Regions from separate parts of the Homo sapiens genome. Here region 2 is linked to region 1. The links come from fine-mapping of genetic effects on gene expression. A gene starts in region 1. The other region holds a variant in brackets. All regions are shown on one strand. Distances are between the middles of the regions. Region 1 holds the start of DUSP22 (dual specificity phosphatase 22). Region 2 has its middle 38 kb from the start of DUSP22.

Region 1 (9,228 bases):
GGGAAGTAGATGGGCCAAGTCAGACCATTCCACACACGGAAAATGAACACAAGCAACTTCCATGATGGCCATGCATAAGTCAGGCATGGTTTCTTACCAAAGATCAAAAAACAACATGATGCCAAGAGGCAGAACCACAGAGAGTCTTGTGCTCTGCCAAGTACGGCTATGGCTGTAGACCAAGGGGTGGAGTACAGCAATACACGGAAGCATTGTGTGCAAGGACTCTCTCCTCTCTCTCCTCTCTCTCTCCTCTCTCTTTCTCTCTCTCTCTGTTGAGTGTGCCCTATATCTGTTTCAGAAACAAAAGACAACAGGATTCTGGTTACTCCTAGAGAGCCATCTCACATGGAAACTACATTGCTCAAGAAAAGGAAACATGAGGAGATGCAGTATTGATGGAGTCTCTGGCATATCAAAGGATGAATTATTTGTGATCCTTATGCCTGGACAAATTCAACAGCCTCCCAGATGTATTTCTTTCCTAAATCAACAAACATCTACATAGTTCCCCACACACTAGGGACTATCTTAGATGCTGGATACTGAGATTGATTAACAACTGGTCCCTGCCCTCAGGCAGCTACCATTTGGGGGAAAACAACAGTTGTCCTGAGAATACACAGGCATGTATGTTCTGACCTGCAGGCTGATAATAATGTGACCTCCAAATTTTAGGAACCAGGGCTCTGTCTTATTTCCCCTTTGCTTGGCACTGTTTTATAATCTGCCTGATAACTTCATTCCTGCAAGCCTCTGCCAATCCTCCCAGGAACTCTGTCCACAGACTTTTGTTGACTCCCAACTAAATGCCTGAGAACATTTTCCCTTTACCTGCTCCCAGATTCTCTGCCCTCCCAGTCATTTACCTGGATATCCATTCCTCTTGCTGCTCTTCCCTGACCCCACACTCTCCAGATATCCGTGCTGAGATCTGAGCCCCGCAAATCTCTTCAGCGAAAGGAGGAAACCACGTTCATAATTAGAAGACTGCTTGGAAGGCTGGAAATTGTGACCTTTGAAGAGTTGAGGTCGTATACCACAGGGGCCCATCCTCATGGTCAGGCTGTTCTGCATGGCCTTGAGAACTCAGGTATTCAACTGGGCAGCCTCTCTCTGGACAATGCTGGAGAAACAGAGAAAATGTTTTGTGCTTTTGCTTCCGTAGTTCCAGGTTCCACCTTTTTTCTTCTTTCCACAATTCATTAGATTCTCACTTTCTTTTACTTTTAGTCAGGCTTTGGCTAGATTAGATCTTCATTTTAACTTCTTGTTCTCAATTTGTTAATAATGAACAATTGTGGCTTAAGAATTCTGCAGAGAACTAACATGATCTATTAGTGTAGATTTAGCTGGTTATTGAGGAGAGGGGGTTGGAGACATTTCTGATTGTCATGACTGAGAGGGTGCTACTGAAATGTAATGAGCACAAGTCAGAGATGCTTCTGAACATTCTGCAGTGCACAGGACAGCCTTCTAGAGCAAAAATGTATCCAGCCTCAAATGTCAGTTTTGCCGAGGTTGAGAAACCCTGGACTGCAATATGTTCAAGAGGCCAGTGAAGATTACATAATTACTTCTCTGTTGGATAGAGGTTAATCTTGATGCTCTGAAATTATCACTAACACCTATAATGATTTGGCTAACTCTAATGGTTGAGCTTCTGCTTGCGGGCTTTTAAACACCGCCACCTTAAAGTTTAAGGTTACTGCTCACTAAATACACTATTAACCAGTTATCCTTAACCATGTGTAAGTATGGACTCAGCTATCCTACACACTCTGTAGACCATTCCTTATTGTGCACACATGAAGGCTTGACTTCTTTCGGAGTTGTTGCCAAAATTTGTGATGTTGGCAGAACTGAGAGGAAGAAAATAACAAGAAGAAAAGTGGAAGTAAAAATCTTACATAGTGTGAAAATCCACCAGGCTTGTGATGCCTTAAAATTTTTATGAGTGAGATAAAGCACAAATGAATAGAGATTCTACTATGGATGTGAAATACGCCAGCTTTGTTGAAGTGTTTCCCTTCTTCCTTTCTTTCCATAATCAAGAGCTAGAGAGTAAAAGTCATAGAACTGCAAGACATGAACAACTGGGAATTATTATTGTAATAAAGAGAGGTGTTCAGGGTTAGGGTGGAGGAGAGTACAGCAAGTCTCTTGTGGGAAACCCCCCAACCCCACAGAATCAATAATTTTTTTTTTTTTGAGACGGAGTCTTGCTCTGTTGCCCAGGCAGAAGTGCAGTGGCACAATCTTGGCTCACTGCAGCCTCTGCCTCCTGGGTTCCAGCGATTCTCCTGCCTCAGCCTCCCGGGTAGCTGGGATTACAGGCACACGCCACCACGCCCGGCTAATGTTTGTATTTTCAGTAGAGACGGGATTTTGCCATGTTGGCCAGGCTGGTCGAGAACTCCTGACCTTAGGTGATCGGCCCGCCTCGGCCTCCCAAAGTGCTGGGATTACAGGCTTGAGCCACCACGCCCAGCCAAAACCAATAATTTTTTTTTTTTTAAATCTTACTCTTCTGACTTCTGGTGTTAATAGTCTCCTCTTTTCCTATTTAACCCAAAAGAAAAATTTGAGATTTTGATAGGAACTCTGGGCATGTGGACCTTTTAGGCCATACTGAATGCTGATTTTGACGGTAAGGAGGAAGCCATGGCAGGTTCTGAGTTTAGGGGGAAAAGCAGATGGTCCAAGCTGGAGAAATATATCTACAAGAAGAGTATGAATAAGAGAGAAATATTGCAAGTGGATGACAGAAGAAAAAAATCAGTATGAATTTGTCATTCATGGTCAAGTACCAGTTTATGAACTGGTTGTGTTCTTAAACGTTCATCTGACTGTTGGATGAATGGCCCAAGGAGGGCAGAAGGCTGCAGAAGTAATTCATTGGTTGCTGGATAGAAGCTTCAAAAATTCACAGTTTAATGCTCTTGTTTTAAAGAGAAAAAAAAAGCTAGCTCAGAAAAGTTGATCATCTTGCTCAAGACCTCCTTAAGAATTAGAAATAGAGGCTGATTACTGGGATTCCCCAGGCAGTCCACTAACGATTCTGTGTTGTCTCTAAGCAGGAAGGTGGTAAAAACAGTTACTTAATGGCAGTGTGTGGCAGAGGGGAAAGGGCAGGCTGTCCAGGTGACTGAGAAGCAGGCGGGAGAAGAGGAAGTGAAGGCAGTGAAGAAGGAACACTCTCCCAAAACAAGAGGCAGAAAGGGCACTCCGGGTCTGGGTCCCATTCTACCTAGAGAAAACATGCAAGCGCATATTGATTGAGGGCTTTCTACACGGGGGGTTTTGATACCATTTGTTGCCCAGAAGATATGGGGTACAAGTACAGAAATGGCGACAGATGGAGTCTACAAGCTCTTTCCAAACGTTCACATTCCTCAGAACCTCACCCGTTTTCTCGGCCACAAGAAATTATTAATTTATTTGACAAATATTTTAAAAATCACTATTTTGTGCTAGATTTTGTCCCAGGCCACATGGCTGTATTACTGAATAAGACAACTTTTTTTTTTTTTTTAATCTGAAAGTTGCTGGCTAGTGAGACAGATAAAAAGAAAGCAAATACATGTATTTCCGATCAATAATACGGAGTAATATGATAGTGACTGGAGGACCAACCTGGAATTGGGTGGTTAGGAAAAGCCTCTTAGGAGAGATGGCATTTGGGCTGATACCTCAGCGATAACAGGCAGGTATGCAGAGAGCTGGGGATCCAGGTGTCTGGATAGAGAGCACAGCCCAGCAAGCCTGACAGGCTCAAGGAACAGACAGGAGACCAGCATGTGTGTAACTCGCTTAGCAAGAAGATAAAATGAAGTCAGCAGGGGTGAGCCAGGGCACGTCAGATTGACGCATGTACTCATTCAGCAAATATTTATTAAGCACCTACTATGTTCAGGACATTGTTGAGGATACATAAATTAAGAAGAAAAACCACTGGCTCAAGGATTCTGTCGCTGGAGAGAAACTTCAGAGTTTAATAACGTTGATAGAACACCCAAAACAATTCTGCTACAGTTTAGAAATTGATCCATTCCAGACAGAACCACAATGCAGACATTAAGGGACACACATCATCTAAGGCCGTGAGGTCTGAGGTCAGAGATCCAGCCATCTGCTCCCCCAGGGTAGGGAGGTCGGGCCTCCCCGGGGTGAGTCACGTAGCCCACCTCTCCCCACCAGGCGAGGCTTCTCGGTCTTGGTGCATGGGGCAGGGCCGCAGGAAATCCCCCAGCCTAAATCTGCCGCACTCAGAAAACCCAGGCAGGGGAGCCCCCAGAGACCAGGCCTCTGATTAGCACCTGATTCACGGAGGCAGCCAAGGCTGGGTAGCGACTGCTGGTAACTGGCCCCCGGAGTCGCCCCAGGGGAAAAGGCCAAAGGGGGATCTGGAGACCCCCGGCCGGGGAGCGGGCTCCGAGACGAGCGCAGCCGCCCGGTCAGGGCAGCGCCTGCGCGTCCGCCAGGCCCCGCCGCGCAGCCTCGGGTGTCCCGGCGGGGCGGCTCGGGCCGCGCACGCGCTCTGGCCTCCGGGGCCGGCCGCCTGGGAGCCCGAGCCTAGTGCCTCCCACGCCCGGCGGCCGCGAGCCGGGGTCCGCGAGGGCGGAGTGGGGCGCGGCAGCCAGGAACCCGACTACGAATCCCAGGGTGCGGGCGGGCGGAGCGAGGAGGGACGCTGGGCCTGCCCGGTGCGCACGGGGGCGGGGACCGGCAAGGCGGGACCATTTCCCGGCATAGGCTCCGGTGCCCCTGCCCGGCTCCCGCCGGGAAGTTCTAGGCCGCCGCACAGAAAGCCCTGCCCTCCACGCCGGGTCTCTGGAGCGCCCTGGGTTGCCCGGCCGGTCCCTGCCGCTGACTTGTTGACACTGCGAGCACTCAGTCCCTCCCGCGCGCCTCCTCCCCGCCCGCCCCGCCGCTCCTCCTCCCTGTAACATGCCATAGTGCGCCTGCGACCACACGGCCGGGGCGCTAGCGTTCGCCTTCAGCCACCATGGGGAATGGGATGAACAAGGTAACGTCTTCCCTCGTTCGCGCTGGGTTTGCCTCCGCTCCGACGCCCTGCCGTCTCGCCGGCGTCGGCTGCCCGACGACTCGAGCCCGGGGTGCCCTTTCCCGCGGTGGGGACGGGCGCGGAGGGAGGGGCGGCGCGCCTGGGCGGCGACCGCGGAGTCGGGGTTCGGAGGTGTTCCCGCCCCCACCCCACCCGGCTTCCGGGTAGGCAGCCCCCAGCCGCCTGCCTTGCCAGCCGGTGCGTTTTCGTGGCTGAAACAAGCCGCGCCCTTTGAAAGCGTTGACACTTGTTCTGCCGAGAGGTCAGCTGAGCTCCGAATGGATGTGGCTTCTTTTTTGCCCTCCTCTTCGCTCCCAAACTACGCTCTTGAAGCCACCACCGCCCCCCCCACATCATTAGTAAACGGGTGTCCTCTGTAATTTCCTCTTTCTCCTCAGATTCTGTGTGTGTGCCTGTGAGCACAGAGAAGTTTTTCTTGTGGACAGAGAAGTTAACAGAGTCCTAAGTCCTGAGCTGTTTCTAGATAGTGGGGAGGAGAGAAAAGATTCAGAGTTGATTAGGTTATGTGACTTCTGCAACAAGGGCAACCTGTTGCTGGCTGCTTGCGCTGATGAGGCCTTCTGGAAAATCTGTGTTGCTCCATTTGTCCCGTCCGTTTCTGGGCCCCACCCTGTGTTCTTTTGTTGCCCGCACCTCACTTCCCGGGCGGTGGGCTAGCCTTTCCCGTCCAGGGAAGTTGCCAGATTCCAGCTCTGGCAGCTGAGAGTTGCCGGGGTGTATTCATGTGAACCACAGGGTTAAGGATTTTGTTACTTGGTACTTGGCTGGTTTCGAGGAAGGATTGACAAGACTTTACAAAGCCCGCAACAAAGACAAGTACCTTTTTACGGGTCTTTGAATGGTCCTGGATTAGATGAGTCGTCTTTCTGCTTCACTTTTTCATTGCGCTCCACCCACCCACATCTCTACATGCCGTCAGCTTCCACACTGGGTGGGGATGGCAATGTGGCTGTGTTTTTTTTCATGTCCCTCAGCACTGGGTCAGCAGTGGTTTGGGTGTTGGGGCTGGAGTGTTGCAAATGCGGATTCACGGTAGGGCAGGGAAAACCTAGCTAACTTTTCACGTGCGCATGTCGTGTTTATTGTGTCCTGGTTACCCAGTTTGTGAAAGAACTATTGTGTGTTTGGGACCTGCATATCAATACTGGGGTATTTTGGTAAAGAGAATTGTATTCACTTTTTTTTTTTTTTTTTTTTTGGCGAGTGATCAAGTTTGGAAACAGACTGTCTCTCTCTTGGATAAATACTTGTATTATATTCCGATGAGCACTGGAATCCATCAGCACCACGAGCCTTCTGCTTTTTAAATTAAAACAGAACAATAAAGATGGTCATCATAAGTCTGTGGGCTCCGTTTGCCTTCCCATTGGTGGTGGTATCTCAGCTTTCCTTTGGCTGTTTCTAGTTTTCCCACTTGAGCTGTTCACTCTCCACCGTTTTCAGCATTTAATTTATAGTATTTGTGTAATACAATTCAAAAAATATATTTAGGAATACAGATGGTTGCCTAAGGGATCAACGTTATTTTCATGCTTTTCAACAAAAGCAGTAATATTCATATACTTTTTACCTTTCAAAATGGGTAATAAATTTCTTGACTTTTATTATCTTGTGAATAGAGACTCACAGTGTATCAATGAAGAAATACATGTATAGAGAGATTTAGAGACTTCCCTGCTTCAACACTTATTGATTATGTACATACTATGAGCCAGGTGTTGTGCTAGTGGGTGGGGAGGGGGCAAAGGGAGTACAGTGGTAAATGACCCAAAGATTCTTCACAGAACCTTCAGTACAGGTCAGCATTGTCCAGCACTAATATGATGCGAGCTATATATGTAACTTAAAATGTTCCGGTAGCCACATTAAAAAATAAACCGGTGAAATTAATTTTAATAATATATTTTATTTAACAATATATTAAAACTATTGTTTCAACATGTAACCAATATATAAAGTTATTCATGGAAGATTCCATGTTTTTTACTATGTCTTTGTGAAAGGAAAAATCTCGGGACCCCCAGATCACTTAACCTTCAAAGTCTAGTGTGTATTTTATGCCTAAATCACATCTCATTTTGGACTAGCCACATTTGGAGTACTCGATAGTCACTGTGGCTAATGGCTGCTGTGTTGCACAACACAGGGTGTGTATGTGTGTGGGGGTGAGAGAGAGAACAAACACAAGGTAGGGAGGAGTAGAGGCTCCAGAGGATAAAATAGGCAATTTCAGAAAAGTGGGGAAAGCAGAAGATGGGATGAAAGTGACCTAGAAGGGGCATTCAGCCCAGGCAAGGAATCCTGCTGCAGTAAACATGTTTAACGTGAGATCAGGAGGAACTACCCCAAATCACAAGGTTCATTAGTGGCAAAGTAGATCGCAGGAGGCCAGTAACTTAAGAACCTTAACTAGAACTTTTCCATATATTACTGTGTGACTTGGAACGAGGCTTCATCTGTAAAAAAAGAAGAATGGTTGATTTGCAGAATCAGCGGAAGGTGCTACCCCTAGAAATCCTTTTCTAAGAACATTTATAAATATGTGCAATGTCTTTGGAACTAACATAACTTGGAATGTGTGTGCCCTGAGGTTACTGGGACAAGATTTCTTTCCAATCTCGTACACATTGGTCATTTTTGGCAAAAGAGCATTTCTGGTCTAAACAGTGCACGCTGCATTCTGAGTGCTTTGGGACAGCAGTTTTTATCATTCACATCCCTGTGGTGGCTCTTCTTGTCGGTCCGTTCCGGGCTCCTGTACGGCGGAATATTGTGCCCGTTTCCGTTAGGTGTACGCAGCAGATTATACAGAAGATGGAGGGGAAAAAGGCTTTTATATTCTAGAAAATTAAAGATGAGGAAATAAAGACAGGACTGGGCGTGGTGGCTCGTGCCTGTAATCACAGCACTTTGGGAGATTGAGGCAGGTGGACTGCTTGAGTCCAGGAGTTTAGAACCAGCCTGGGCAACATGGCAAAACCCTGTTTCTACCAAAAATACAAAAAAAAAACCCACAAAAACAAAGCAATCAGCCGAGTGTGTGGTGGCTTGTGCCTGTAGTCCCAGCTACTTGGGAGGCTGAGGTGGGAGAATCACCTCAGCCCGGGAAGTCTAGGCTGGAGCGAGTCGTGATTGTGCCACCGCACTCCAGCCTGAGCGACAGAGCGAGACCCTGTTTCAAAAAAAAAAAAAAAAAAACCCAACAACAACACAGTTGTGAACCATTTTTTTTAACACTTTATAAAATCTCAGCCTCACGGTAGCCCTATGAGGTCAAACGACCTTATATTTGCCCAGATTGGGGAATGGAGATTTGGAGAGGTTAGGTAGCATAAGTAATGCCAGGCAGGGCAGAACCCAGTCTCCACTGATTTTGAAGATAGGAAAAGTCTTTCCTTTGAGCTGAGATGCTAATTCATCCCAAGTAAGTTTTAAAATTCCTAAAAAGTAACTTGAAAAGCTCCTCATAGCTTCGATTACTTGTCAAATAGCCAAAATCACCTCCTCTCTTCCTTTATGTTTGACATTGATAAGGAAGGGGGTAATTACAGGCAAGAAACTAAAACTTTTTTTTTATTGTTTTTGTTTGTGTGTGCAATTCCTAGGTAGATGCCCCACACTGGCCAAAATTATAATTGCCAATGAGTTTATGGTGTGTTTTGAGTACTTTACCACATAGAGTAAGCCACAACTCCATGAAGTAGATCCTGTTATTTTCATGCCTGTTTTCTGGTTGTACACAGAGGCTAAGGGAACTGCCAGGGTCACCCAGCTGGTGAGTAGCAGAGCCTGGACTCAAAGCCACAGTCTGGCTCGGCCACAATGCAGAGTGCCTCACCACGCTGCTAAGATATTAGTCTAGTAAATGTCTCTGGTAAGATTAGGGTTAAACTAAACAGGGTGTTGCATGCAAATGTCGTGTTCCTGTGGAGCCTTTGAAAACTCCTAGTTGACTCAAAGTTCTCTCGAGTCTGAACCCTCAAATCTTTTGGGGGAGAGCCTATAAACAAAACTCCTATCCTCACTGTCTACTTATTAGTCTTCAGTACTACAATACCCCATTAAAAACAAAACAAACGACTAGTCTCTAGCCAAACATTATGTCAGAGAAGGCTGCCCCAAATGCTTCTCATGTGCAA
Region 2 (10,456 bases), 37 kb before region 1:
TCTTCCCCTCTGTATCTCCATGAATTCAACTGTTTTAATTTTTAGCTTTCACAAGTGAGTGAGAACATGCAAAGTTTGTCAGTCAGTGCCTGGCTTGTCTCACTTAACATGATGACCTCCAGTCCCATGCATATTACAGCATCTAATTCTTTTCTATGGCTGAATAGTACTTTATTGTGTATATGTACCACATATCCTTTATCCATTCATCTATTGATGGATACTTAGGTTGCTTCCAGATCTTGGCTATTGTGAATAGTGCTGCAATAAACATGGGCATGCAGACATCTCTTCAGTATAGTGATTTTCTTTCTTTTGGGTATATACCCAGCAGTGGGATTGCTGGATTCTAGGGTAGCTCTATTTGTCAAAATTGATTGGCCACAAACATAAGGATTTATTTCTGGACTCTAAATTCTCTTCCATTGATCTACATGTCCGGCTAGTACCACACTGTCTTGCTTACTGTCACTTTGTAGTAAGCTTTAAAATCAGGACGTGTGAGTCTTTCAACTTTGTTTTAATTTTTCAAGATTGTTCTGGTTATTCTTGGTGCCTTGCCTTTCCGTATGAATTGTATAATAAGCTTGTCAGTTTCTGCCGAAAAAAAAAAGCCAGCTGGGATAATGATAGGGATTATATTGAATCTGTAGATCAATTTGGGGAGTACTGCCGTCTTAACAATAAGTATTGAGTATTCCAATCTATGTTCATGAGATGTCTTCCATTAATTTAGATCCTCTGTAATTCTTCCAATGATGTTTTGTACTATAGTTTTCAGTGTAGAAGTCTTGAATTTTTTGGAAAAATCTATCCTTAAAATATTTTATTCTTTTTGATACTATTATAAATGGAACTATTTTCTTACTTTTATTTTCAAATTGTTCATTGCTAGTGTATAGAACCAACCGACTTTTGTATATTGATCTGCTACCCAGCAACCTTAATGAACTAATTTTATATGCCTAATAGTTTATTTTGTGGCATGCTTAGAATTTTTAATATTAGATCATGTCATCTACAAACAGAGATAGTTTTACTTCTTTCTTTCCCATCTGATGTCTTTCACTTTTCTTTCTTGTCTAATTGTCCTGGCTTGATCCTCCATTGCAATGTTGAATAGAAGTGGTGAGAGTGGACTTCCTTAGGGCAAAAACATTCTGTCTTTTACCACATGTGTAATGTTAGGTGTGGTTTGTTTGTAGATTCCCTTGATCAGGTGGAGGAAGTTCCCTTCTATTCTTAGTTTTTGTGTGTTTGTATTATGAAAGATTGTTAAATTTTGTAAAATGCTTTTTTTCCCATCTCTTCAGATGACTATGTGGTTTTGTTGTCATGCTATTAATACAGTGCATTACATTGACTGATTTTTCAAAGTTAAAGCATCCTTATCTTCTTTGGATGAATCTCATTGGATTCAGTTTGTGTTTTGTTGAGGATGTTTGTATTGATATGTATAAGGGATATTGGTTTGTACTTTTCTTATGATATCTTTGACTGGTTTTGGTATCAGGGTAATACTGGCGACATAGAATAAGGTGAAAAGTGTTTCCTCCTCTTCTCTTTTTAAGAGTTTATGAGAGGGTCCGGGCGTGGTGGCTCATGCTTGTAATCCCAGCACTTTGGGAGGCTGAGGCAGGCGGATCGCTTGAGGTTGAGAGTTCGAGACCAGCCTGACCAACATGGAGAAACCCCATCTCTACTAAAAATACAAAATTAGCCAGGTGTGGTGGCACATGCCTGTAATCCCAGCTACTCAGGAGGCTGAGGCAGGAGAATTGCTTGAACCCGGGAGGTGGAGGTTGCAGTGAGCCGAGATCACACCACTGCACTCCAGCCTGGGCAACAAGAGCGAAACTCCGTCTAAGGAAAAAAAAAAAAGTTTATGAGAGATTGTTGCTAATTCTGCATTTGATAGAATTCACCAATGAAGCCATGTGAGTCTGAGCTTTTTGGTAGGAAGTTTTTAATTACCAATTCAATCTCCTTACCTGCTACATGTCTATTCGTATTTCTTATTTACCCCTCTCTCGGCTTCAATAGTTTGTGTCTGGTATACACATGTTAAAATAAAAATGTTAATTTGAAGTTTCTCCCCATCCCTGTCATCTACCTATCCTCCTTATTACTTGGGCTCATCTCCTTGACAGCAACTATAGGAAAAACAAGAAAGCAAAAATATTATCTCTTTACATGCGACAGATTCCTTTGGATTTTGCTCCCCCATGGCTTCTTTTGATATGTTTGGTCTCCTAGCCCCTCCTCTTTAAAACTTCTCGACTCTAGAAAAACACAGAAGAAAAAGACTGAGCGAGAGAAAGAGAAAGATTGTTCTAGTGAGATTTGAATCCATTCTGTAGTGCCACATGGATAAAAAGTAGGCCTATCAAATGTCACAAATGGGCTTGACTCACTTGGCATCTCAAAGCCCTTATGACATGTAACTGCTAGCAAAGGTGTGATGATTCATATCTTCAGCAGAATTGAGAACATGAAACTCTACTTTGCCTTCCTCCTTAGAATTGTTCAGAGGAAATGTTATTTCTTCCCTGAAAGTTGGTTGCAAGTTTCTTTCCTTTCTTACTGAATGAAATGTCACATATATTGATAGATGACCACTTTCACACAGAGCTAGGTAAATAAGATTATGATTCTTATATTAATTCCAGAGTGATGATTTGATAAAGAGAGGAGATAATCCATCATTTCATCCTTGCAACAGAGGTCTCAATTTTGTTGTTATTAGAAGGAGATGAATTATTTTTTCTTTAATATACTTTAAAAAACAAAACCAACCACCATCAGCAACAAAAATACTCTCTAAACTTGTGTTTAAACTGCAGCGGAAAAAACTATTTTAGTGAACTTAGCATTTTCCTAGTATTACCTCACCTCAGGATTTGAGTTTTCCAATGACTGTGGCAGTGCCTTGTTATTTTTAGGGATTCGACAGCCTTTTCTGCAAACCGTCCCCTTAAACTCTCCCTCATCTACCTCTGCATTGTGATTATCTCATATATCAAAAAGTTTCTTTTTCTCTAAGATGAAGCTGGCTTATCTTTATTCAGTCTAGAAGATTTGATTGCACAGAAATGATCTAATAGTTGCCCACCGAAGGATTTCACTGCACCCGAACTCATTCAAAATGCTTCCTTAGTCAGTTTGTTCTTGTTTTCCTTCTAAGTTTTGCATGCTTCTTAAACCCTGTTTCAGAAAGTCAAAGAAACATACCTTCTCATTCATTTAAACAACACTGAAGGACCTGAAAAAGCCTGTCCTTAATTATTTCATAACTGAAACGAAAACAAATTTTAGCATGTCAGTCTGATCTTGTAAGCCATACACAGGAAACCCAAGGTCAGCGTAGAGTGTCTTATTCTAGAATGGTAAGCCAGGCATTATTGTTTCTATTATTCTATAAATTACAGCTGACATGCATGTATGACAGCTTAACACAGATATTAAACAGACCAAAGAGACTTTCAATTTCTACCTACAGTGACAGATTATTTATCTCAACAGGTAAAATCATAATAAATCCAAAACTCTTAGGGATGCCATGAAGTGTTTATTTTCTAGTTGGAGAGGAAATTATGTTGGCACCTTAATTACGCTTTATTTTACTGTTTCATTCATGGGCCTCGGTTGCACAGAATCAGATGACTCATAATTCTTGCTTCACCACACACTTCCCCACTGGCCCATGCACGGCCCTTTTCTATTAATTTACTCATTTATTTATTTCTAATAATACAAAAAAAACACCCACGGACCCACCACCCATCACCACTGATCCATAAGCCAGGACTATGAATTTTTTTTTTTTTTGAGACACAGTCTCACTCTGTCGCCCAGGCTGGAGGGCAGTGGCATGACCTCGGCTCACTGCAACCTCTGCCTCCCAGGCTCAAGCAATTCTCCTGCCTCAGCCTCCTGAGTAGCTGGGATTACAGGCATGCGCCATCACACCCGGCTAATTTTTGTGTTTTTAGTAGAGACAGGATTTCATCATGTTGGCCAGGCTGATCTCGAACTCCTGACGTCAGGTGATCCCCCCACCTCAGCCTCCCAAAGTGCTGGGATTACACACGTGAGCCACCATGCCCTGCCGGACAATGACAATTTAACTCAGATTTTCTGCTCCTTTGCGACCTTCTGTCCCTGCTTCGCCCCACCTGACTCGCAGGCTGGTAACTGTGACTCTAAATCCTTGTCCATCATTCCCTTGCCTCCCTTTTTAACGTGGGGTTTTCACTTTGTGTCTCCTGATTAACAAGCTGATTTATTTTGTTTTATTTTTAAGTCCCTCCCAGATCCCACTCAGATATGCCTTTCACATCTTTGTACTAGAGGGAATGGCTTGGCTCATCCATTTTGGGGAAATTAAGTCTTCATTTATTCATAATTAATTCTTC[A/G]TTTATTCAAACAGGGTTTAAGAAGCATGCAAAACCGGCAAGGGCAGAGAACAATCCCGTCTCAAGGGACAATAAAACCAAGAATCCTTTTGTGGGCTGTCTCGGTTGCCTCATACTGGTGTCTTCATGACACGCCAGCACGGGGCGGCTCCCCCATGGGCTGGATCATGTCTGTGGCTGGCCAAGCCCATGGTGAGCAGCATCAGGAATTTCCTTTCTGAGTGCTTTTCTGCATGATGGCTGAATTATGAATCTGTATTAAAGAGGTTTTAAAGAGGGGAGGTTGACTTTGGGGGCTTTTTGCCTTCTTGAGGTCAACGAAAGTTGGTTCGGCAGGAAGGGGGCATCCTGGGATAGTGGAAAGGACGTTGGATTTAGAGCTTAGAGACGTGAATTATAGCTTCAGTTCTGCAGCAGGTATAGCTGTGTGACCTTGAGCAAATGATTTCTACCTCACTGGACTCAGCCTCCTCTTCTGTAGAAGACACATTTGAACCAAATTATTTCTTTTTTGTTTGTTTGCTTTGTTTTTGAGAGAGGGTCTTGCTCTGTTGCCCAGGACTGGCACAATCACACAGCCCCTGACCTCCTGGGTTCAAGCGATCTTCCCATCTTGGCCTCTCAAGTAGCTGGGACTACAGACACACACCATCATGCCCAGCTATTTAATTTTTGTAGAAACAGGGTCTCACTATGTCGTCCCGGCTGGTCTTGAGCTCCTGGGCTCAAGCAATCCTCCCACCTCGGCCTCCCAAAATGCTAGATTTACAGACGTGAGCCGCTGCCCAGCCCCAGATGATTTCTAAGGATCCTATCAGAGAAGGAACTTGGGGAAAAAAATGAGTCAGGGTCTCATTGCGCTTCCTTCACTCATTTGGTTGTGAAGTCAACACGCATGCCATTGGGTTCCTACCATGTGCCAGGGATGCAGGAACTGAGGTCCTATCACTCTGTGAAGTACCATGTCCTGCAGTGTATTTCTCAGTCTGTCTGACTAAGTTGAGATCTGCTTATGAGCAAGGACACTGTCAAGCCTCGACTGGGACTAACTTAAGCAAAGGGGTAGATTTGCTGTAATACTACAGGAGTTGAAGTATTTCATAAAAGTCATAAGCAGGAATACAACTGGGCCTCAGTAAAAGGCTAGAGACATTACCCTGAATGTGGAGGGGAACCAGAAAGTCACTTCTCCGTTTCTGTTTCCATGTCTTTTTGGCAGCCTGCTTCATTCTTCACTTTGGCCATAGCTGCTACTTCATGGAAAATAGCCTCGACAACCACAGCATTTTATATACGAGACAAACTCTGTCTAAGTCTCCATTCTGAATTCCTAGGGAATAATTGTGATTCCCATTCCAATCCACTCTACTGTGGCCTGGCTGACGTGGAGGTTGGGGAGTTTAAGGTCAAACAATGGCCTTTCATCCTTCCACCATGAGAATGGGATGGGAGAGACACGCCTGGGAAGGTTTCATGTCCTCCAGCTCCGGTAGGGCCTGTGATCAGCGCTGGTTTGCTCATCTCTCTGTGCCTGGTGCTAGCCCAGAGTGGGTACTCAGAACCTGCATTCTGAATGAATGAACGTGTGAATACAATCAAGTAAGAGTGAAATTATAGGTAAAGAAAAACATACCAAGTGAACCCCACTCTTGGCTTTAAGAGGAAATTAAAAGAATATTAGCAGAAGAGAATAAGTCACACAATTTTGAAACAGAGCTTCCTGGAAGGCATGAAACTCGACACGTGACACTGTGCATTCACAGTTTACAGCCATGTGTTAGTATCTTACAATACAGAGAACGCGTGTGTGTTTTCTTATAAGGTATCAAACAAGTAGGAAGTGATGACGGAATGACTTCTCTTTTGAGTTTTCAGTGACTTAGAAGTCTTTCTCAGAGCTTTTCATGTCCATTTCAAAATACTGATATCAACAAAGAACGACCAATGAGGACAGAGAGGCCCGTTTGCATTCTCGTAGCCATGACCCTAAAATCCAAAGAAAGTTTCTAATGGAGAATCGTGGCATTTTAGAGCTAAAGTGAGCCTGTCCCAGCATCTTGTTCTTTGCCCTAACTTTACAAAAGAGGTTAAACTACTTGCTGCCAGCTAGAGACAGAGGGGACCCCTGGCTCAGTGTTTTGGAGAATCTTGAGCTTCAGTTGTCACCAAAGCCATGTGTGGATGACCTCAAAAGCTGCGCCTGATTTGTGCGTGAACACCTCATTCTCCCAGCCCTGGCTAACAAGAGCTACGTCAAAGTTAGGATGCATGGGTCTGAGCCTTGCTAGCCCGGAGTCAGGGCCCCAAAGAGGTCACAGGTTTATATTGACACTGTCTCCCAGGCAGGCAGCACATGGAGACATAGTGGTGGGAGAGTGGGAGAGATGTCTTTTTTTTTTTTTTTTTTCGAGACAGAGTCCTGTTCTTGTCGCCCAGGCCGGACTGCAGTGGTGTGATCTGGGCTCACTGCAACCTCGGCCTCCCGGGTTCAAGCGATTCTCCTGCCTTAGCGTCCCAGGTAGCTGGGATTACAGGCATGCGCCACCACACTTGACTAATTTTTGTATTTTAGTAGAGTCAGTGTTTCACCATGTTGGCCAGGCTGGTCTCAAACTCCTGACCTCAGGTGATCTCCCTGCCTCAGCCTCCTAAAGTGCTGGGATTACAGGCGTGAGCCACTGTGCCCAGCCGAGAGCTGTTATAATTTATGTCAAATTGTATTTGTTTGATATATGCTTCTATAAATTTGTTCCATAATTTTGTTTAATATTAAATTATATTTAACATACATTATACACACACTTTTGTGACAGTGTTATACTTTCCATAATTTATCTATTTCATATCTCATGGGGACTTTTTAAAGAAAGGAATCTTTGACATTGAAAAAATGTAAGCTGATCATGATCTTAAATCAAGTCTAAAATTTTAACTTAGATCTAAAATTCCTTGAAGAATAAAGTTTGTAAGAAATTTCTCAGCATGACAATTCCACTCGTGTTATTGAAGGACAACATATCCATTTACAAAGTCAACACATTTTCCTCTAAAACACTAAATGTGTGCTAGAAAAAAATACTTCCTGGAGGAGCGGCTTCCTTTTTGAAATAACTTCATCTTTTTCTGACTGCCTTTGGTTGACTAATCATGAAAAATCTCCCCTTGATGTGGCAATTCTAATTCTGACGCCATCTCCATGGGGAAAAGAAAACTTCCAATTTTTCTTTAAGAGGAAGTCAGTGCCTCAGACAGATAATCACTTCCCTGGAAGAACATCTCCTCACAAGCGGATTTTTTTAAGTTTAAGAAGTTAACTTTGTAATGTTTAAAAATGAAAACTGCTAGATTTGACAAGCTTAGGAGGGAAGCTCAGTATACCTTCATCCGTACTCATTGGGCTGATTGCTTAGTTCGGGCCTCAGGTGGGAACGGGAAGTGCTAATTAGGCTTCCATGAAGACACCCACACTGACAAGCATGCATCCAAGTCCTCCGCTTCTCCAGAACTAAACCTGGTATACCTTGATTTCAGCCTTGCCAAAGCCCTGCAGAACTATTATGTAAGGGAATTGGCTAATCTTTATTTGCTCACTTTTAAATGTCTTTTGTGCCTAAGGAAAATCAAACCCATTGTTGTTGGGGTTTGAGAAGGTAAATTTACCACACCTCTGCCAGTTACAGCTTTAAGACCAGGTACAGAAAGCAGATATAAGTCAGTGTATTGGCTTTATTTCTGGTAAGGCTGGGTTAAAAAACCTCCACTTGGACCCAAGGTCTGAATGGTTTTCCACTGAACTTAACCAGGCCCACCCACCCACAGGCAGGACAGCTGTGGGCCTCTCCCCACAAGGGCTGCACCTGGCTCCTTGGGCTCACCCCATGGAGGAGAGGAGGGCAGGTGCATCCTGTGACCAGGCTGTTCTAAAAAATGATGAGAGAGACAGAAAGCACACCAAGGAGAGGGGAGTGGTGAACCTTTACACAGTGACCCCAACCCTTAATGAGCAGCAGAATTAGTCATCTATACTGAAGAGTTAGAAAGGGGTAAGGAGAAGAAAAAAGTTATTTCCAATGTCTGAAAGGTCGGGCATTTCCTTTTCCTTGGCAGAGGCAGGAGCAGGTGGGGACAAGAGAATAGGTCTCCCTTTGGTTGGTCACTCCAGTGGGTCACTGCAAATGCTGTTGTGCACACTAGGCTTTGCTGAGTGTAGCTTTGCCCATAGGGCATCAAAATTTGAAAGCCCAGAAAAAGTTTTATTTGATTTTATAATTTCAACTAGTATTTTAGATTCAAGATGTACATGTGCATGTTTGTTGCATGGGTTTATTGCATGATGCTAAGGCTTGGGGGCGTGAATGATCTCGTCACACAAGTAGTAAGCATAGCACCCAACTTAGTTTTTCAGCCTTGTCCCCATCTCTCTCTCCTGCCTCTAGTAGTCCTCAGTGTCTAGTGTTTCCATCTTTATGTCCATGTGTACCCAATGCCCAGTGCTTAGCTCCCACTTATAAGTGAGAACATGCAGTGTTTGGTTTTCTATTCCTGTGTTAATTAATTCACTTAGGATAATGACCTCCAGCTGCAAAGGACATTTTTTTTTTTTTTTGATAGAGGTAAGATTGTGCTCTGTCACTCACTGCAGCCTTGACCTCCTGGACTCAAGCAACTCTCCTGCTTCAGCCTCTTGAGTAGCTAAGACTACAGGTGCATGCCACCACACTTGCCTGAGTTTTTATTTTTTACTTTTGTAGTGACAGGGTCTTGCTATGTTGTCCAGACTGGTCTCAAGCTCTTGGCTCCAAGTGGTCCTTCCGCCTTGGCCTCCCAAAGTGCTGGGATTACAGGTGTGAACCATTGCACCTGGCCAAGCTCATTCTTTTTTATGGCTGCATAATATTCCATGAAGTATATGTACCACATTTTTTTAATCTGCTCCACAGTTGATGGACACCTAGGTTGATTCTATGTCTTTGCTATTGTGAATAGGGCTGTGATGAAGTTTTAAATGATCATTTGAAAACTCTTGTGAAAGCCACTGTATCTCACTTCTTCAATAAACACTCTGTTCCCAGTACTGCCAGCATGGTCCCACCAACAGAGGCAATGAGCTGAGCTCCAACCTCAGACCAGGATAGGCACCAGCAAAGATGAACAGGACTGGGGACCCAGTACCCCTCTGTGGGCATGGGGGCACGCAATCGCTTCCTCCTCCCCTCTTCCCTTTCCCTGCTGCTGACACTGGTGCCTCTTTTGTTTTGGGAGTCTTTCCATGTTGCTTGTCCCTAACATCAAAATTACAAGCTAAGAAGCTGAAGACAGAGGATTTCTTTCAAATTAGTGTTAGAATTCTTTCAACGGTTATTTATTGAGCACTTACTATATGCTATTGTAGTAGCTAGGCATGCAGCACTAAACAAAATAGAATTTACATTCTGGTGGAAAGAAACTGCGGTGACCAAGTAATTAATCTTTGGAGAGAATTTCACGTATGTGTGCATTTGCCTTTTATGTGCTTCCACATAAATCAAGCTTGTCCAACCCATGGCCCATGGGCCACACGCAGTCCAGGATGGCTTTGAATGCGGCCCAACACAAGCTTGTAAACTTTCTTAAAACATTATGAGATTTTTTAATTTATTGGCAATTTTTTTTAGCTCATCAACTATAGTTAGTGTATTTCATGTGTGCCCCAAGACAATTCTTCTTCCAATGTGGTCTAGGGAAGCCAAAAGATTGGACACCCCTGCATAAATCAACATATTTATAAGGCACATTACAGTTACTTTGAGGATTCTCATTGAGACAGTTCCTCAAGGGACAATTATTATAAGAAGGCATAGGTGACAAATCACAAACACCAACAAAATTTACACAATGGATTTATTGACCATCTAGGCTGTGCAAGAGACACTTTCGTTTTAAGGCTTACTATATTGCAGGAAGCATATTACAACCACAAACTGAGTGCTCTTTAATGGTCAAAAATAAACCCCAAACTTACATCTTTGTTTCGTTTTAACCAGGTAGCTAAAAAGCAAAAA

What was found.
Region 2: its variant is fine-mapped to the expression of DUSP22 in whole blood (TOPMed, PIP 0.97).

Annotation. Positions count from the first base shown.
Region 1 is chr6:287,532-296,759 of GRCh38, forward strand. DUSP22 (dual specificity phosphatase 22) reads left to right here and starts at 4,956. Exons shown (of 7, transcript NM_001286555.3): 1 at 4,956-5,029. The coding sequence starts at 5,009. RefSeq lists enhancers at 3,919-4,208, 4,135-4,635, 4,636-5,136, 5,429-5,688, 9,116-9,228 and silencers at 4,319-5,338, 6,083-6,239, 6,119-6,178, 6,189-6,248.
Region 2 is chr6:249,660-260,115 of GRCh38, forward strand. No RefSeq gene overlaps it. Among named protein-coding and RNA genes, the nearest start is that of DUSP22, 38 kb to the right of the region's middle. RefSeq lists an enhancer at 2,465-2,534 and a silencer at 5,456-5,656. The variant A/G (reference allele first, on the strand shown) is at 4,416.